Regions from separate parts of the Homo sapiens genome. Here region 2 is linked to region 1. Evidence: fine-mapped expression QTL. A gene starts in region 1. The other region holds a variant in brackets. All regions are shown on one strand. Distances are between the middles of the regions.

Region 1 (9,273 bases):
AGCAGCCATTGAGGAGTCTGCTAACTGGCCAAAGGATGTCATCCAGAAAAGCTTTCACAATAGGGAGCTGGCCCCGTGGCCGCTGTCCAGGAAGTTCAGTTGCAGACGGACTGGGCTGAATAAGATGGGGCCACCCAGCAAGCCCAGGGATCCAGGAAGAAAACCTACCTCTTCCACGCTCCTGCGGTGTTTGCGTCAGTGAGGGGCTCAGCTAGAGGTGGTCCCCTCACCTGGGGGGCTGGAAACTGAGAAGGGAGAAGATTCAGCCCAGACACTCTTAGAAGCAGCAGGAGCCCCAGAGACCTCCTCTCAGCCTTCCTTGGGATAGCCCCCACCCACTCCTGGCCCAGCCTTCTCCTTCTCTCCTGTAGAAAATAAGCTCTAGGCCAGGCACAGTGGCTCATGCCTGTAATTCCATCACTCTGGGAGGCCGAGGTGGGTGGATCACTTGAGTTCAAGAGTTTGAGAACAGCCTGACCAACATGGTGAAAGCCTGTCTCTACTGAAAATACAAAAATCAGCCTGGCATGGTGGTGCGCACCTGTAATCCCAGCTACTCAGGAGGCTGAGGCAGGAGAATTGCTTGAACCCGGGAGGCAGAGGTTACAGTGAGTCAAGACACACCACTGCACAGAGTGAGAGTGACAGAGTGTAAATTCTGTAAGAGCAGGAACTTTGTCTTCCTCACCATTGTATCCTTAGTACCTGGGACAAGGTCTGTCACATAGCAGATGCTCAGTCAATACTTGTTGAGTAAATGAACTCATATTTCACTTTTTAATGAACATAGAGATGACAGGATGTGAAGTCTGGGAGCCAGAATGTTGAAAGGGAAATCTGGGTCACACTTAATGCTCTAAGGAGGCAGCAAAGAGAATTAGAAGCCCGTTCATACTCATTCCTTTGAGGATGAAAATATACTCATCTTATTTCAGAATCAAGTCAAAATTAACTTCTTTCAGGATGCTTCCCCCTGATCACCCCCAACACCTTCCAAGCCAAAATTAACCCATATCCATTAGAATTTTAACATCTAAATATATGTTCTGACAGTCACCTGAAAGCATGCCATTTCAGAGCCAGGATCATGTGACTGTGCCTCCTTGACATCTTTTCTTCACTTTAGGAGTGTTAGCCTCCTTGCTGGTTGATTTCTGAGACAGGCCCCACATAGGGTGGGGCTCAGGCAGGCAGAAGAGAGAGAGAGATTATGGAAATAGCATTGGCCTGCTGGCTCAAAACCATATACCTGAGCCCCAAACCAATCCTCCCAGCCTGAGTATATCTCCCTCACCGTGGCCCAGAATGTGTAACCTGACTTCTCTTTCCTCTCCTCCTCTGTCAGAAGGGCCTGATTCAAGATGTCCTGCCCTACAAATCCCCACAATCGACAGAATTATAGAATGTTGGGGCTAGAGTGGAGTTTAGGAGCCACGAAGTTTACCCGCTCTCTTTGTAGATTGGTGCAAGGGACGGAGGAAGGCACTTGTCTAACATGAAGCTAGTTAGTGACACAACTAGATCAGGAACCCAGCTGGCCTGACTTTCGTGCCCTGTGATGGGAATGGATGCTGTTAAAATACCTATCCAGAGAAGGATCTGCTTGTCACAGAGAAATCTCGAGGCGGCAGCCTGGCACTGCCACTGAGTGTCCAGCTCTGGATTGCAGTTGCCTTGTCTGCCTGTTGCCAGCTGGGTGGCCTCATGGAACTTCAGTTACCTCATCTGAAAAAGAAGGGTGATGGTGCCCACCTCATAGGGTCATTGTAAGGATTTAAATGATGTGGTTCGTGTACAGGGCTCAGAACAATGCCTGGTTGGTAGGCATGGTGTTTGGAGGAGCATAGTAAATGCTATTGCTATCAATATGTCAAAATAATGTCAATATTAACATAGTAGAGAAGTAGCTAGAAAAACTGAACTTCATACCTGGAAACAATTTTAAAGATAATCAGTTCTGCTTCCACGGACTTGCCTTTTATAGGAAGATGAGCTACTCTAATCCCCTCCTTCAGGGCCCTTCTATATCCTAGAATAGGAAAATTATCGTTATTTAAAGATGTAATTAACATTTATTATGGCTAGCATATTAGGTTTTAGATAGGCCAAATGTGTGATACAATAGAATTGTATTTTTATATGCTGCTGTGTATACTTTACAGTACATTGGGGCCCTTATATAATCGGTGTGCACTGTACTTTAATGTCCATTTTATAGGACTTTTATAAGGGAAGCTGGATGATGTGGTGGAATGAGCACTGTGCCAGGAGTCACAAGGCCTGGTTAGGATGCAGGCTTTGCCACATATTAACTGGGGCATTGCAAGCAAGCTACCTCCTCTCCTAATCAGTGAAATGCAGTGCTTGGCTGGATGAAGTCCAAGGCTCTGTCCAGTCCTGGCGGTCTATGGCTAGAGGCAGAATCTTACAATATGAAGTGATAATAGAGGTTTACAGGTATTTTGTACACATCTATGACATATTTTTTATCACATCTCTGGTTTACTTGAGGTTAAGTTCTTAGGAACAGCGCCCTCAATAATAAAACTGTTTCTATTGGAAACTATAATCTGCTTTACAATAATCTGCTCTGCAAATTGCTACTAGGAATACCTTCCTTGGGAAAGCTGGGGCTCCCCGCATGTAACACCCACATCTCAGGAGTTGCGTGAGTGACCTTCATGTACATGGTCCCTGAGACAGTCATTCAGTCTTCTTGATCCTTCCTCGACATAAAATTCCCAAAAAGAATAGATTTCTGATTGTCCTTTCCTCTGTAGATTAGAAGAGCAAACTAAAAGTAAAATATGTGAGCTGTGAGCGGCAGCCTCAAATGACAGCAAGAGTGACGGCTGTGATAGTGTCACACACTGGTGGAGGCCCCAAAACTAAGAAACTGACCGGACAGCACGACTACACAGTTCAGTAATGGATGTCCAGAATGAGAAACCCAGGGCATCAAGAAGTACAGCAAATATGTTCAGTGTTGTTTGCTTTAGGAGGCAAACAGAATGCGATACCTTTTAGAAAGATTTCCATCAAAGTAAATACTTAAAAAAAAAAAAAAACACTCAGCTCCTGTTACACACCAAATTCACTGATGTGGGCTCCCTCCACGCCTGGAGAGGATGCTACATGAATAAAGCTTCACTGCACATGTGTCCCCAGGGGTGAGTGTATATAGGGGAATGCACACAGTGGTCCCAGAATAATAAGTCCAGAGTGAAATTTCAGGGTAAAGCAGCTTTTCAATTTTTCAGTGAGGATCTGGTTAGGATCCGAGTTAGATTTAATTTACCTTAAATTAACTAGCATTCACGTATTCACCTATTTAAAATATTTTTTATTAAGCGCCTAATATTATGTGTGCCAGGCATTGTTTTAGAGGTTATAGTGGAGTTTCAGAGAGGATCCGCTGTTCACGTGGTGTTTTACCGGGGTATACTCATGAACAACAAATAACCACCGGTTTTACCAAGGCATACCCACTGTGTGGTCTGATATCCCAAGTCTGCTCCTTGATGTGGCCTTACTGCCCCTACCCCACTTTCTTCAGAGGAAGCTCCTTTAGAGTAGACTGGGTTACCCCCATAAGATGGAGCACTCCTTTGGAGCAAGAGCTATGGTTCTGCCATCAGCCCGGGAGCCTCCACCGCCGGGGTTGGTCTCTGCTATGACCTCAGTACAGAGGGAGATGGACGCCTGGCTCTCCTGGGCAGCCTGGTCAAGAAAGACTCCTTTCTTTCCTAGAGAGAGGTCTCCCTCGGTTCCTGAGCTGAGCACATGCTTTCTCAGTGAGCCGGCAGAACAGGACAGAGGGGCGTCTCCCTGGGGCCTCAAGGCTTGCGACGTTTCTTGCTCATGGGGAGAGGGAAGGGAGAGAAAAAAAAGAGCGAGCAGGAAGGCGCCCAGCGTCCCACACAGGGGACTCGCAGCCCTGCCCCCAAGAGCGCTGGCTCCGCAGCAGCAGTGCCCTGCAGCTCCGCGTCTGAGCAGCAGCAGCGCGCGGCCCGGTGGAGTGGGTGGTGCAGGGCAGGGGTGGTATATCCTGTCTGACGGAGGGCGGGCCTCGCCAGTGCCAGAGAGGGACGAACCAGGGTGGAAGCGCCAGGAGCAGCTGCAGGGAGCCCTCACGCGGACCACGCACTCTATGGCCGTAGGGAGCCGCTGAGAGCGAGAAGAGCACGCTCCTGCCCGCCCGCTGCACCGCACCTCGCCTCGCCTCTCTGCTCTCCTAGGCCCCGGCCGCGCGCCACCCGCCTCCCGCCACCATGAACCACTCGCCGCTCAAGACCGCCTTGGCGTACGAATGCTTCCAGGACCAGGACAACTCCACGTTGGCTTTGCCGTCGGACCAAAAGATGAAAACAGGCACGTCTGGCAGGCAGCGCGTGCAGGAGCAGGTGATGATGACCGTCAAGCGGCAGAAGTCCAAGTCTTCCCAGTCGTCCACCCTGAGCCACTCCAATCGAGGTAAAGGCTCGGCCCCCGCGTGGTCCGTGCGCCCCTTTCCAGAGCACCCTGGCCCAGTGGCGGGGACCAAGAGACGCACGCATCCCCGGGGATGAGGGGAGGCGAGGGGCTGCCGGCCCCAGGCAGGGTCTACGCACCTAGTGCGAGCAGCCGAGCTCCCAGCCGGTTCTGAGCTGGTGTAAACGCGACCCGAGGCTGGCTCGACGGCCCCGCGAGCTCGATGGCGCGCTAGTGGGCAAGGATGGGTGATTCACCGGGACACAGCCAGGAGCATGTCCCAGCGTGCCAGGAGGTTGAGGATCCCCCGCGAGCGGTTCTCCTGTCCCTGAGCCCTGGGTCTGGACGGCTTTCTCTTTCGGATGCTGCTCTAGGGATCTGCCCTGCATCCTGTCTGGCCCCGGCTGTCCTGGGGCCCATGGTCCCCGCGCTCGCAAACGGTTGTGGGCCACCCTTCACCCTTCCTGGGCTTGATCTCCTGGCCTTCAGCTGGAGGCCGATGCCCAGCGTCCAGGCCAAGGGGAACCCCAGTCCCTGTGGGGCCGCGCATGAGTATCCGCGAGCGGGGTGAGGGAGTCGCTGAGACAGGAGTGCAGCTCAGGAGAGGCGCTGCGGGACGGGAAAGTGGCACAGGGAGCAGGGACGAGGGCCTGGAACTCCAGGGCACTTTATCGAGAGCCTCCTGAAAGAGGCTAGCCTAGTTGGAAGGCCGCCCCAGGGCCAGTGGGTCCCTTGACGACAGGGAAGGGGGTCAGGGATGCTTTCTTTCCCGAATAGCCAATGCAGAAATCCTCTTTCCCACTGGATTCTTCTTACCCCACCCAGCTTAGGTAGAAACAAGTGTCTCATGGGGAGAGTACGGAATGGCAGGTTGGAAATCCCCCCGGGCCCCAGGGAGACCTCCAGCTGAACCCTCACGGGCACTTTTCCAAGCTGGATCCCGGGCCTGGCACCCCCTCCTCCAGCCTCTGAGAGGCCAGATCCCATGACTGGGGGAACCTGGGAGAAAGGGGCAGCACCCAGGAAACTCAAGGAGGAAGGGGCAGTACCTGACAGGGGAGAGCTTATAGACCAAGTAAACACTTTGATACAAAGGATGCCTGGTAAGAATTACACACAAGTGAGCAAAGATTCCACTTGTTTATTTATTTACTTATTTTATTTAGCTAAGTTTAGTAAAATGCTAATAAGACTTTACCCATTACCAAACAGTACAGGTCAACCAAGACTTATGTATTAAGACAGGCCTTAGGAGAGAGTGAGGGGCAGGGGGTAATAAGGTGGAAGGAGACAAAAGAAACCGACCCTGGCCCTTCCACCACACACACACACACACACACACACACACACACACACACACACACCTCACACTTCCTTCTACCTGTGGCTTCTGTCCCCCCACCTACTCCCTAGCCCCCATTCCTGAGTGGCCCCTTGTAGAGCCGAGGGAAGGAAAATGGCCGGCAGAGGACTTCCTGGGCCCCAGACCTAAAGGCCTTTGCTTCTCTGTGTGCTCTTTGCCTTTGTGTGGGCTCCAGGCTCCTCTCGTCACATTTCCACTCAAGATCATGCCACCTCCAGAGCACTTGCCTCCTTCCCTTTTATTTGGTGCCTTGGTAGGTGCCTCCTAGCCTCTTTAGAATTAGGTTTGGAATAACAAAGTGCCCCCATTTCTGGCTACAGCCCAGAGCACAGCTCAACCTACTCTCCTCTCTGCACAAGACTTGGCTGTCCCCTTCCCACTCCCACTCCATCCCAGCCTGAGCTCTTGGCTCACAACTCCAGAAAACTCAAACCGGCCCTGGGTGCCCCAAGGACCCCTTTTTCCTCCTACCTATCGGGATATTGGCTGAGTGTCTGTCAGCAAGAAGTGCACTTTCTGGGCTTGGTCTTTGTGGGGAACTTCTATCTGATAAGGTCTCCTTTGTTCCCTCTTTGTTTTTCCTCCCAAGGTCCCCCAGGGGGCTTCACTGGGGGAGGGTTGATGCTGATGGCTACCTCTCCAGAAACTCCAAGGTCTAGCCCTGTGGGCGTGTCCCCTCTACCCTCAGACTCTGCGGAGGTTCCTAAAGGAGGCTGCAGAGGCATCCTTGCTGGAAGAGGCGGTTTGGTCACTTGGAGCTGGTGTTTCTGGTTTATCTGGCTTAGTTTTCATCAGATTTCCTTGTCTTCTCCATCAGAAACACCCAAACGTCCCCTATTTGCTCTGCGGCCACCTCTACTCACTCTGCTCCCTCTTTCTTATGCTGGTTTACCTGTCAGGAGCCTGCTTTGGTTCCTGGAATGGAATGAGCTGGTAGCTGTGGAAGGACCATGCCCCAGGCGTTTTCCCTCGCCCCCTGGACAGATTCAGGTTCTTGTTTAGTCTCTTCCAAGAGCAGAGTCAGTTTACCTAGGGTCTTCTTGAGCCCCTTGAATCCCATCCAAAGTTTCCCTAGTTAAGAAGGGCCAACCATACCCCACAGGTTGCCTGGAAGAGTAGCCACTGCTCCTTGTACCCCAGGAAGGACAGTCAGGACCAGCCATCCTTGGTCCTGTGATAGAAGTGGCTTCTCAGTTCCTCTCCACTAGTGCTCTTTTCTCTCTTGTCACTGAGGGAGTATTGAGCCACTGAGGACTGGAGGAAGGGCCCCTGGAGCCTGTCACAAAATGCCTGTCTGCACTCATGCTCTCCCTGAAATGCCACAGATCAGACAAGCACCTTGCCCTGGTCATGAAGGCCCCGGGCAGGAAGAAGGTGGCTTCTGTGGCCTGGAGACCTTGCAGAAGGAGGTTGCTCTGAACCTGCCTACCCATCTTGAACTGCCCCTGAAGTATTGCTCCCCTGTGTTTTCAGGCTGTCCCTGTGTGCCTCAGGGTGTCTGGCCTCCTTTTCTTCCCAGACTGTGTGGAAGGCAAGGGGAAACTGAGGGGGATGTCACCACCCAGCAAAAGATCTTTGCCAGGGAAATGACCTCCCTGAGGATGGGGAAGGAAACACTTATCCACCTTCCAGATCTTTATAACTTCACTTGGAATCTCTTCCTAAAGCTGAACCTGAATCTCACTTGCCCTAACCCAAGCGCTCCCCCGCCACTGTGAATACAGATCACACCCAGCTCAGTGAAAGGAGCTTCCTTTCACCTGTCCTGTCTCCTTCCAGGGAAGTCCTAACAACACCAGCACCATTGCCTGCTTTGTCTCACTGCCTGCTTAGCCATCTGTGATTTTTTATTTCAGCCTTTGGCCTGAAATTCTCTTTCTCCCTTCTTCATAGAAGTACTGTTTCCCATCTAAAATTGCTAAGCCTCTATTTCTCTCTGATCAGAGGTAGGGGCTGGAGGCAACATTGAGCCAGGGGAGGTGCCTGCTCCCTTTCTGTAGTTCCTGTGTCTATTCAGCCCTCATCAGGGGAGAGGGGGGCATGCTTGTACGAACTCCGCAGCCTGCACAGTGAAGGAGCTCGCCTCAGGAGCCCCCACTTTGATGGCTTTTTGTATTTGTGTTTGACTATGTCTCAGCATGAGCTTCTGCCCGAGTGTTCTGCTCATTAGAGTTTCTAGAAAGTTGTCCTTTCCTGACCACAGGCATCACTTCTGGGGTTGTTTTCTTGGGACCGAAGCTGAGATTGCAGATGGTAATGGCTATGTGTGCTTTAGCTTGTTCCATTGGCGAAACATACCAATTAAACTTCAAATGAACCAATTCTTGTTTCTTTACAATGTACCTTGGCTTGAAGTTGGAGTTTTAGCCAGAATTTCCGTTGGCCTGTTACAACACATGCAAAAATGCTGGGTATTCTAGGGTGTTTTGCAGCAAATGCTGCTTCTCTGGATCCTGCTCCTTGACAGAGATTTTTTAAAAGTACAAATTCCTCCCCCGACCCCATACCATTGTAAGTATCATTGTGCCAATTGTTCTAGGTTTAGAAATCTGGGAAGCGCTTCTGCGATGGGCCGTGACCCTTACAAGATGTGTAATGTTTGAACAAAATAAAATGGACGAATGTTAGATATCTTCATGTGAAGTTCCTTCTAGGCATACGCTGGACACATGCGCACACATGTATACACACATAGGTCACACATGCATATATGCATGTATACACAATACACCCCACACATGAATCCACACACCCACACATGCACACACGTACACACACATAACATGCACACACTTATGTTATGTGTGTGTACATGTGTGTCCTTGCAGCTGTGCTGTGTCAGGAGCCCAGCCTGGCATCTACCTGGTGTGCGATCTTGGACAAGTCGCTGCCTCTCTTTGGGTCTCTGCAGCTGTCAGAGGTTGGATTAGATCATCTCCAAAGTGCTTTGCAATGGGAACACTCTTTGGAAATAGATTTTATAACTCTCTAGCTCTGCAAACCATTTGCCCAGACCGCCAGCAGCTGTTCTGCCAAAAAGCTCTTCCCCTTAAGGCATGCCACTCATCGTGTCTCTCTCGTAAACATCCTAACATATTAAAAAGTCTTCTCATCCACTCTTCTCAAACTTGGCTACATATTGGAATCACCTGGAAATTTCAAACAACACAAATGCGTGAGTCCCACCCCCAGAGATTCTGACTTAGTGAGTATGAAAGATGGCACGGGCATCAGGACTTCAGAAACTCCCAGGTGATTCTCATGTGTAGCCAAGTTGGAGAACCACTGTTCTAGTCCCTGTCCTTCACTCACACAGATCCAGCATGGGGGAGCACCCCTATACAATGACATACACCCATGTCTTTCTCTCATACACACACACACACGCACACTTAATGTAGTAGTTGCTGGCGAGAGCCTTTGACTCTGAACCCCACCTG
Region 2 (9,195 bases), 51 kb after region 1:
CCAGCCTCCCCACTTACAAGGCTGCTTTCCAGGAAGGGAGGTCTGGTGTATCTCATGGGAGAATCTGGGGTGTCTGTAATGTCACCCCTCCAGCAGCGCCACAAGGACTGAGGTTGGGTAGGTGTGGGGTTCCAGAGGACAGCAGGACACTCTCGCATACTTTGCCAAATGAGGCCTGCTCAGAGGAGTAGGAGCTGAAAGATGGTGCCTTCCACCCTCTTGGGCTGTGTGCCCATCAGAGCAGGCTCAGCCTGCAAAGGCCCTGCATTCAGAGGTCTTGTAATCTACTTGTTGCAGGAGAAAGAAGGTAAAAAATGATTTTTTTAAGAAAAGCTATTTTATTGCAGCTCTTTCCCAAGAGCTGTTCTGGGAATGGCTGGTCTTCATATTCCCAGTGGAGAGGGGAACAAGTGGGGCTGGGCATATACCTATTCCGGCTTCTAGTGGGATGGAGTTGGGGTATAGAAATTAACCAGGAAGATGTTTCCACCAAGCCTGCTGTGAGTCAATTGAGGGAGTGTTTGGGGTCCCAGGAGACTTGGACGGGGGGAGTTTGGGTAGACTAGGAAAGGAAAGTGCCATATCAGGGTACCGGTACCGGCAAGCTCACATCTCAGCCAGGGGCCATGCCCCACTTCCCCTGACCCCAGCTGTCTTGTCTCCACTCTGTGAAACCCACAGGGGATGTGATAAACAGGGCTATTAGGGGTATCAGCCACGTCGAGCCCCCAGACTCTGTGCACTTCAGACCAGCAGCAGCAGGAGGGCTCCCGAGGGCCTTATGAGAAAACCTGTGTGGACATCCCTTGGTGTACACTAAGACAGAGCAGAGCCCAGCGCTCCCAAGCCTTCCTCCTTCCAGCTTCTACCTCCATGCTAGCATTGCTGGTGTTAGAGAGGAATTAACTTCCTGGTCTGTGCCCTTCTCTAGAAGAATATAAGATGCTCCTCCTCCTCACCCCTTCTCAGCCTCCTCCCAAGTCTTCCTCTTCTGCACCACCCCCGAGTCCAAACCCACCTCTTGCCCCAGCATTCAGGCTGGAAAACACTGATGTGGACTCAGTATGATAACTGAGATGGGGGACGCCAGACATGTGAGGACGCTGTCCTCCGAGAGGTGTCCCCGGCTGTTAGCCAGCTGTGCTGTGGTGCTGTGGGTCTGTCATACCCTCCCTTGCTTCTGTTCACACTGGGAGGCCCACTCCTGGCTCACCTCTCCCTCTCAGGGACCCACGTGGGAGCCTGGATCCCTGGACTGTCCTGGGCATAGGTTTCAGGGGCCTCCTTTGTTGTCATCAGAACCCAGAGGAATTCTTCTCCTAAAAAATACGTATGGCATACCAATCTGTGCGGGGCAGTGTCCTAAGCACTTAGACTACATCAGGGAAGAACACAGACCACATCCCTGTCCTCATGCGGCTTATGTTTTCTGGAGGAAAGTGGAGACACAAGTCCTTGGCTTTAGGGCTCCCCCGGCTGGGGGCTGTGCAGTCCGGTCAGGGCGGGAGGGGAAATGCACCGCTGCATGTGAACCTTACCAGCCCAGGCGGATGCCCCTTCCCCTTAGCACTACCCTGGCCTCCTGCATCCCCTCGCCTCATGTTCCTCCCACCTTCAAAGAATGAAGAGCCCCATGGGCCCAGCCCCTGCCCTGGGAACCAGGCAGCCTTCCAGACCTCAGGGGCTGAGGCAGACTATTAGGGCAGGGCTGACTTTGGTGACACTGCCCATTCCCTCTCAGGCCAGCTCAGGTCACCCGGGCCTCTGACCCAGGCCTGTCACTTTGAGAGGGGCAAAACTGAGAGGGGCTTTTCCTAGAGAAAGAGAACAAGGAGCTTGCCAGGCTTCATGTAGCCGACACACGTCTCAGGATTTTAAGTCCACATTGGCCTCACACTACCAGGGCCAATGCCCAAAATAAGGAGTTCCAATTTGGGGCCAAATGAGGAAGGACACAGACTCTGCCCTGGGATCTCCTGTGCTAGCGGCCAATGACAAATCCAGTCATTGGCCACCAGCCACCTCTGCAGTGGGGACCACACTAGCAGCCCTGACTCCACACTCCTCCTGGGGACCCAAGAGGCAGTGTTGCTGTCTGCATGTCCACCTTGGAATCTGGCTGAACTGGCTGGCAGGACCAAGACTGCGGCTGGGGTGGGCAGGGAAGGGAAGCCGGGGGCTGCTGTGAGGGATCTTGGAGCTTCCCTGTAGCCCACCTTCCCCTTGCTTCATGTTTGTAGAGGAACCTTGTGCCGGCCAGGCCCAGTTTCCTTGTGTGATACACTAATGTATTTGCTTTTTTTGGAAATAGAGAAAATCAATAAATTGCTAGTGTTTCTTTGAACTTTTTCGAGGAGTGGATTCTTTGGGGTGCTGTTGAGGGATGAAGGGGCTACTCATTTCCTTCCATGATCTCCTCTTACCCTGTACCAGGCAAGGACTGAGAATGCCACCCGGGGGCACAGGGACAGCGCTATCCATGGACACCTGCTCTACAGCAGCACATCGAGCCTCACCGCAGCTCCATGACACTAGGATTGCTGTCCTGATTTTTAAAATAAGTAAAGCGAGACTTAGGGAAGGAACAAATACCCCCAGGGTCACACAGCTTGTAAATGTCCCCAAGCCTGAACCCATCCAGGTGGGGCATCTGTAGGAAAGAGAAATTCAAAGATGAAGGTCAAGGAGTTGGTGTTTATTTAGTTTTATTTATTTACTTTTTGAGACAGGGGTTTTGCTCTGTTGCCCAGGCTGGAGTACAGGGATGAGATCATGGCTCAAAGAGGGCTCAACCTCCCAGGCTCAAGCAATCCTCCCAGCTAAGGCTCCCAACTATGGGTCTCACTATGTTGCCCAGGCTGGTCTCGAACTCCTGGATTCAAGTGATCCTTCTGCCTTCGCCTCTCAAAGCACTGGGATTACAGGCATAAGCCACTGTGCCCAGCTGGAGCTGATGTTTATTGAATGCCTATTCTACCTGGGTTCTGTATTGGTGCTGGAGGGTCACAAAAACAAAGGATGTGATGGGCCCCAGCCTCAGAAGTCTCATAAGGGACAAGACAAACATAAGCAAACGAGGCATGTGTAGTAAATTCCAAGTAGTGCTGTGAACATAACCACCGTGGGCCATCAGTGCCAGTCAGGGCCACCTGGATGGGGAAGGTCAGGATGCTTGGGGAAGGGCTGAATGTGAGCTTTTCCCAATTTGAAAGAGTGGTGACTGGCAAGTCCTCTCTACTACAGCCCACGGCCCTGACCTCCTGGACCATCCCACAGTTTAGTAATGTCCAGAGAGGTCAGAGAGAAGGAGCTGTACCACAGACAAGAAGAAGATGGCCTATCTGTGGCCTGGACTGTTAAATACACGAGGCCTCGGACATCCAAAAAATGTTTTGAGACCTGAAAAATATGTATTGACTCCAAAATGTGAGATCAAGTTACAAATTTACAATCAACAGATGTTTAGATTGCTAAGCTTTCATTGGAATATAGCATGCATGCAGAAACATGTACAACTGAAAATGCATGCAGCCCAATGAAGCTTCACAAATGAATAGCACCCAGACCGAGAAACAGAACATTACCAGCACCCAAAACCCTGCTCAGACCCCTTCAGGTCACCATCCTCCTCCCCAGGGGTAACCACTGTCCTGACTTCTAACACCGTAGATTAATATTGCCTATTTTTGAACTTTATATAAAGGAAGTCAACAGTAAGTCCATTTTTATGTTTGGTTATTTTATCTCAACAATATGTTTGCAAGATTCATTCATTCCTATTCATGTTCCTACCACTGCCATATAATAATCTATGTGTAATTACGTTACAATGCAAAATGCAATATTACATCATCGCCATTGTTACATCTATTATTTATAAACAACTGGAAACAATTTGCGGATTAGTTGTCTCACTTCCTAAAAATTCCCACATGTGAT[A/T]TAATTACTGGGAAATTACAACTAACAGTAAAGAAGTTCGATTTTACGTGGGACGTGGGTGCACTTAATGTGTAGGAGTGCCAAAAAGCTACAGAAGTACTAATTCAACTGTCCCTGGCCAAGTGGGTGGCAGGCCCTCTGGCCCCTTCAGAGGACTGTCCAGTGAGAGCAAAAGGGTCCAGGAACAGATGGGCAAGACCAAACTGGGAGGCACCAGGAGCAGCTGGCAGCCTAAGCTGTGGAAAGGAGAAGGTCTCATGGTGCTGGAGGCTGAGTCTCCCAGACTCCATGTCAGGCTGCCTCCAGGTCTCTCTACCCTGAGCCCTGAAGCCATTTCCTCCTGTTGCCTTTGGAAGTATTCTGGCCTGGAACCCGATTCTCTCCACGAGAGATAAAGCATTCATTGTGCATCATTTTTGGAATGCAGTGCGTTCCGTTGTCCAACACAGTTGGAGAAAAGAGTGAACAGAAGTCGTTAATAATAACAATAGTCTTTTTTACTTGAGGGGGCCACACATTAACTCCTTTTGCTTTCAAAGCCTTAGGGTGTTGGTTTGCTGTTTTGATCTTTACTTCATTCTAGTGAGACAGGCAGAGCCCAGAGTATTACATTTCAATTTATAGATGAGGAAACAGACCCAAAGAGAGAAAGTGACTTGCGCAGAGTCACGTGGCAAGTTTGTGGCGGAACCAAGCCTGAGACTCAAGCCTCCTGTGTCCCAGCCCAAGTCTGCTCTGGTCAACTCGCATGAGGCTGCCCAGCTGTCAAAGTGTTAAAACTGTTCAGAGAGGCCTGACACAAAGGCGATACTGTGCATAACCAAATCTTTAATGAATCAGAAGCTCACAGCACCTCGAGGCATCATAAGATTACACATCTTATGAGCTGTGGTTGCTGTGCAGACATGCCAATAAACGAAGAGTTCTGATAGACGGAATATCAGATGCCAGAAACTACAGTGTGGATCATCTAGTCTGGGGCTGGTGGTTTGGTTGATTAGAATATGGAGGTAATGAGGCCAGGGCCACAGAGTGAAAAATACCTTAAGGACTCCTGCTGGTATCCTCCACCCTAACCCGTCATCCTGCACACCTCAGCAGGGTGTGAATGTCACCAAGTGACATGCCAGCCTCTCTGGGAAGCGTGTCAAAGCTGACAAGCCCCACTGATGGTGGATCAGCAGAGATATCCCATATACAGAAAGGATTTCAGGCTTCTGGCATTCCTAAGCCCTCTAGTTGGCCCATTAAGAAGTTTTATGGCTGCTGAATTAATTTTTAAAATTTCTAAAAAGCATTTCAGCATTTACCAAGCGGTTCTAAATCTCTGGGGTATAAATGTCACCCTCTGCACACAAGACCATTAAAATCCTGCTTTCTACACCTCTCTCTGAAAGGAAATGTCAACCAGGTCTCCAGGGCCAGTGGGGCCCATGCTGCACCCATGCGTGTTGTTCTGGATCCCTTTAGGCTCACCTGGCTGCATTCTGGGGCCCAGAGTTTTCCTGGAGGATAGCAGGGCTGTGGGGGACAACAGACAAGAACGACCACCTATTCTGTGACCCCCGTGGGGGTGGGCACTGACATGCATGAATGACCTTCTATCTCTATCCAGATGCTGCAAAGTAGGTGGGATCATTCCCATTTCACAGATAGGGAAACTATGGTTCAGAGGTGGAGCAACTTTTTCAAGGTCATACAGATAGTAGGTGATGGATTCGGATTTTGAAACAGGTCTGAGGCCAAGGTTGGTGCTCCTCTCCCTTCTCTATAGCTGCCATCTAGACAGCAGTTGCCAACAATTAGGTTGGCTCCAAAACTGCCCTCTAATGACTCCAACCTGTGACCATGGTGCCCCTCTGAGCCTTCTGTAACCAGTGTTCGAAAACAGAATAAGCACCTGTACCCCAGACATATACTCCTCATCTTTTCTTTTTAATTCAAGAAACGTCTGGGAAAAAAATTCTTGTCCTCTTCCAAAAGTTGAGAGGTCAAGGCAAAAATACCCTACACTCACCTCCTCCTCTGAATTGAGAAAGCCCTTTTCCAGACAGCCCATCTACCGTCCACTCTTGAATCTGAAAGGAGTCACTTCTTGCCCAATCTCTCTACTTCTTTTTCTTTTGCCAGCTCAGAGCTGGTCCTGCCTGGTCCCCTTGTCTGTCTGGTTTTGAGTACTCCTGGGGGCAGAGCCTTTATTCTTGGCCCCAACCAACCAGATCTCCTTGATGGCTGGACCACTGGCGGACTGCAGAGTGTGGGGCTGTAGCCACAGGTGCTGGGGGCTGGGAGACAGGCTGGCAGGGAACAGGCTGGCTTGGTGGCATGCTGGACCCACCATCCAGCATCTGGGATCTGCTGTCTGGAGCTGGCCTGCATCAGGGTCACAGACTGTCGGAGTGGAATGGCCAGGGAACACCCCTCAGCAGACGATATCCACCTATTTTCCAACCACAGAATCCTTCGGGTAAGCTACACTGGCATGGGGAGACAGAGGCAGCCCGGGTGGAAGAGACTTGGGGCAAGAGCTCCACCTGCCCACTCCCTTTCTGCCCAGGAGTGGGATCCTCAGAACCCCAGGCTCCGAGGAGCTGTGGAGAAATCGCTGGTCTAGCCCGACTCCCTCACTTTGCAGGTGAGAAACTGAGGCCTGGAGAAGGAAAGTAACTTGCAGGGGTCACAAAGCAGCACTAGGAGCAAGGCCAGGCCCCTTCTCCAACACCACCCTCTGCTCTTTCTTGCAAGTCCCCTTCCTCACTGGACTAACTGCACCTTTGGATGCTCCATAGGCCCTGCCAGAGCCCTGATGTAACACCCGGCACCTGGGTGGTTGGTACAGCCACTTTCTGCACTGGACTGTGAACTCCCTGAGGGCAGGGACCCAAGCAGTCTCTGGCACAGGGAAGGAACTGGATATTTATTCTTTTAGGTGAACAAGGAAGGAAGGGAGGGAAAGGGGAACTGGCAAATAAAAGAAGAAAAACATTTTCTTGTCTGGTATACAACCAACCAAAGAGAATGAGTAGGAACAGCCAGTGACGTGAAAGGCCAATCAGGAGAGTGTGGCATCTGGAAGACAAGGGAAGAAAGTGTGCCTAGATGGAGGGAGGGCCCAGCTGTGTGGGATGGTGCTGATGAGCACACAGGATGAAGAAACATGGGACTCTCTAAACACAGGGGGAGTTCACACACACACACACACACACACACACACACACACACACACACTGATAGAGCCCTACACACACACACAACCACAAGGCTGCTGGAGGGATCTGACAGCACCTGGCACTGTGGGCACAGAGCAGAGGCTTGGTAAGGACCAGCATCCCTATATGATGAGTAGGGCTCTTCTTGAAGCCTTAGCTTTGGTGACCAGGACTCCGCAGGGGAGAGATTGAGGCCAAGTATTCCCACCTCCTAAAAAGAGTCTAGATTAATTGGGGCCACATATCTTTGATTAAAGATCCAAGGGCTTTTGAACGATGAGACTAGGCCAGGCATAGTGGTTTATGTCTAATCCCAGCACTTTGAGAGGCTGAGGTGGGTGGATCACCTGAGGTAGGAAGTTCGAGACCAGCCTGACCAACATGGAGAAACCTCGTCTCTACTAAAAATACAAAATTAGCCGGGCGTGGAGGGGCATGCCTGTAATCCCAGCTACTCGAGAGGCTGAGGCAAGATAATCGCTTGAACCCGGAAGGCGGAGATTGCAGTGAGCCGAGATTGCACCCTTGCACTCCAGCCTGGGCAACAAGAGCGAAACTCTTGTCTCAAAAAGAAAAAAAAAGACCCAAGGGCTTTTGAATGATGAGACTAGGCCAGGCATGGTGGTTCACATCTGATCCTAGCATTTTGGGAGGCCAAGGCGGGAAGTTGCTTGAGCCCAGGAGTTCAAGACCAGCCTGGGCAACATAATGAGATCCCATCTCCAAATAAAAAAAACAAAACAAAACAAAACACCATGAGACTGGATGAGATGACCAACGTCATGGGGATAGATAGAATAGAGAAGAGCTTCAAAGGCGGTGGACAACCAACCAAAGAGAATGAGGAGGAACAGCCAGTGACGTGAAAGGCCAATCAGGAGAGTGTGGCATCTGGAAGCCAAGGGAAGAAAGTGTGCCTAGATGGAGGGAGGGCCCGGCTGTGTGGGATAGTGCTGATGAGCACACAGGATGAAGGCAGAGCTGACAACTGGATTCACGATTCTTTTATTTCCTCCTCTTTCCTTTCTGCTCCTTTAGGTAAAATTTAGATACAGTGAAATGCACAAATCTTAAGTGTACCATTCAATAGATTTTGACAAATGCAGACGTCTGTGCAACCCAAAGTTCTATCAAAATATAGAACATGTCATCACCTCAGAAAGTCCCCTCATGCATTTTCCCAGTCAACAATCCCCCTTCCCACTAAGAGGCCACCACTGTTCTGCTTTTTTCATGACAGATTAATTTTGCCAGATTTTAAAAAAATGTAATATTTGGGAGACCGAGGCGGGTGGATCACGAGGTCAGGAGATTGAGACCACCCTGGCCAACACGGCGAAACCCCATCTCTACTTAAATACAAAAAATTAGCCGGGCATGGTGGTGTGTGCCTGTAGTCCCAGCTACTCGGGAGGGTGAGGCAGGGGAATCGCTTGAACCCAGGAGGTGGAGGTTGCAGTGAGCCAAGATCGCACCACTGCACTCCAGCCTGACAACAGAATGAGACTCCGTCTCAAAACAACAACAACAAAAAGTAATGTCTGGGTTGGACACAGTGGCTCACACCTGTAATCCCAGCACTTTGGGAGGCCAAGGCAGGTGGATCACCTGAGGTCAGGAGTTCGAGAACAGCCTGGCCAACATGGTGAAACCCTGTCTCTACCAAAAAAAAAAAAAATTAGCCAGGCGTGGTGGTACACACCTGTAGTCCCAACTGCTGAGGAGGCTGAGGCAGGAGAATCGCTTGAACCTGGGAGGCGGAGGTTGCAGCGAGCCGAGATTGCCCCACTGCACTCCACTGCCCCAGCCGGGGCAACAAGAGCAAAACTCCGTCTCAAAAAAAAAAAAAAAAAAAAAAAAAAAGTAACGTCTGCAGGATCTATAGTGTATGCCCTGTTTTATTTCCAATGTTGGTAATTTGTGTTCTCTCTCTCTCTCCTTCTCTCTCTCTCACACACACACAAACACTTTTTCTTGAATAGCATAGCTAGGAGTTTATTTTTTCAGAAAACCAACTTTTGGCTTTGTTAATTTTCTCTATTTTTTT

Which allele goes with the higher level. Alleles are on the strand shown, and positions count from the first base shown. SD is a standard deviation of normalised expression in the study named.
For the expression in skeletal muscle of the gene that starts at base 4,075 in region 1, A is the low allele of the variant in region 2 and T is the other (moderate effect, 0.48 SD a copy in GTEx).

What was found. PIP is the estimated chance that this variant, and not a neighbour inherited with it, causes the effect.
Region 2: its variant is fine-mapped to the expression of PKP1 in skeletal muscle (GTEx, PIP above 0.99). The same link has a PIP of 0.9 or more in visceral fat.

The regions. Positions count from the first base shown.
Region 1 is chr1:201,279,432-201,288,704 of GRCh38, forward strand. PKP1 (plakophilin 1) reads left to right here and starts at 4,075. Exons shown (of 14, transcript NM_001005337.3): 1 at 4,075-4,473. The coding sequence starts at 4,272. RefSeq lists an enhancer at 3,916-4,445.
Region 2 is chr1:201,330,646-201,339,840 of GRCh38, forward strand. It overlaps PKP1 (plakophilin 1), which reads left to right. Exons shown (of 14, transcript NM_001005337.3): 14 at 1-2,344. Among named protein-coding and RNA genes, the nearest start is that of TNNT2, 42 kb to the right of the region's middle. The variant A/T (reference allele first, on the strand shown) is at 3,940.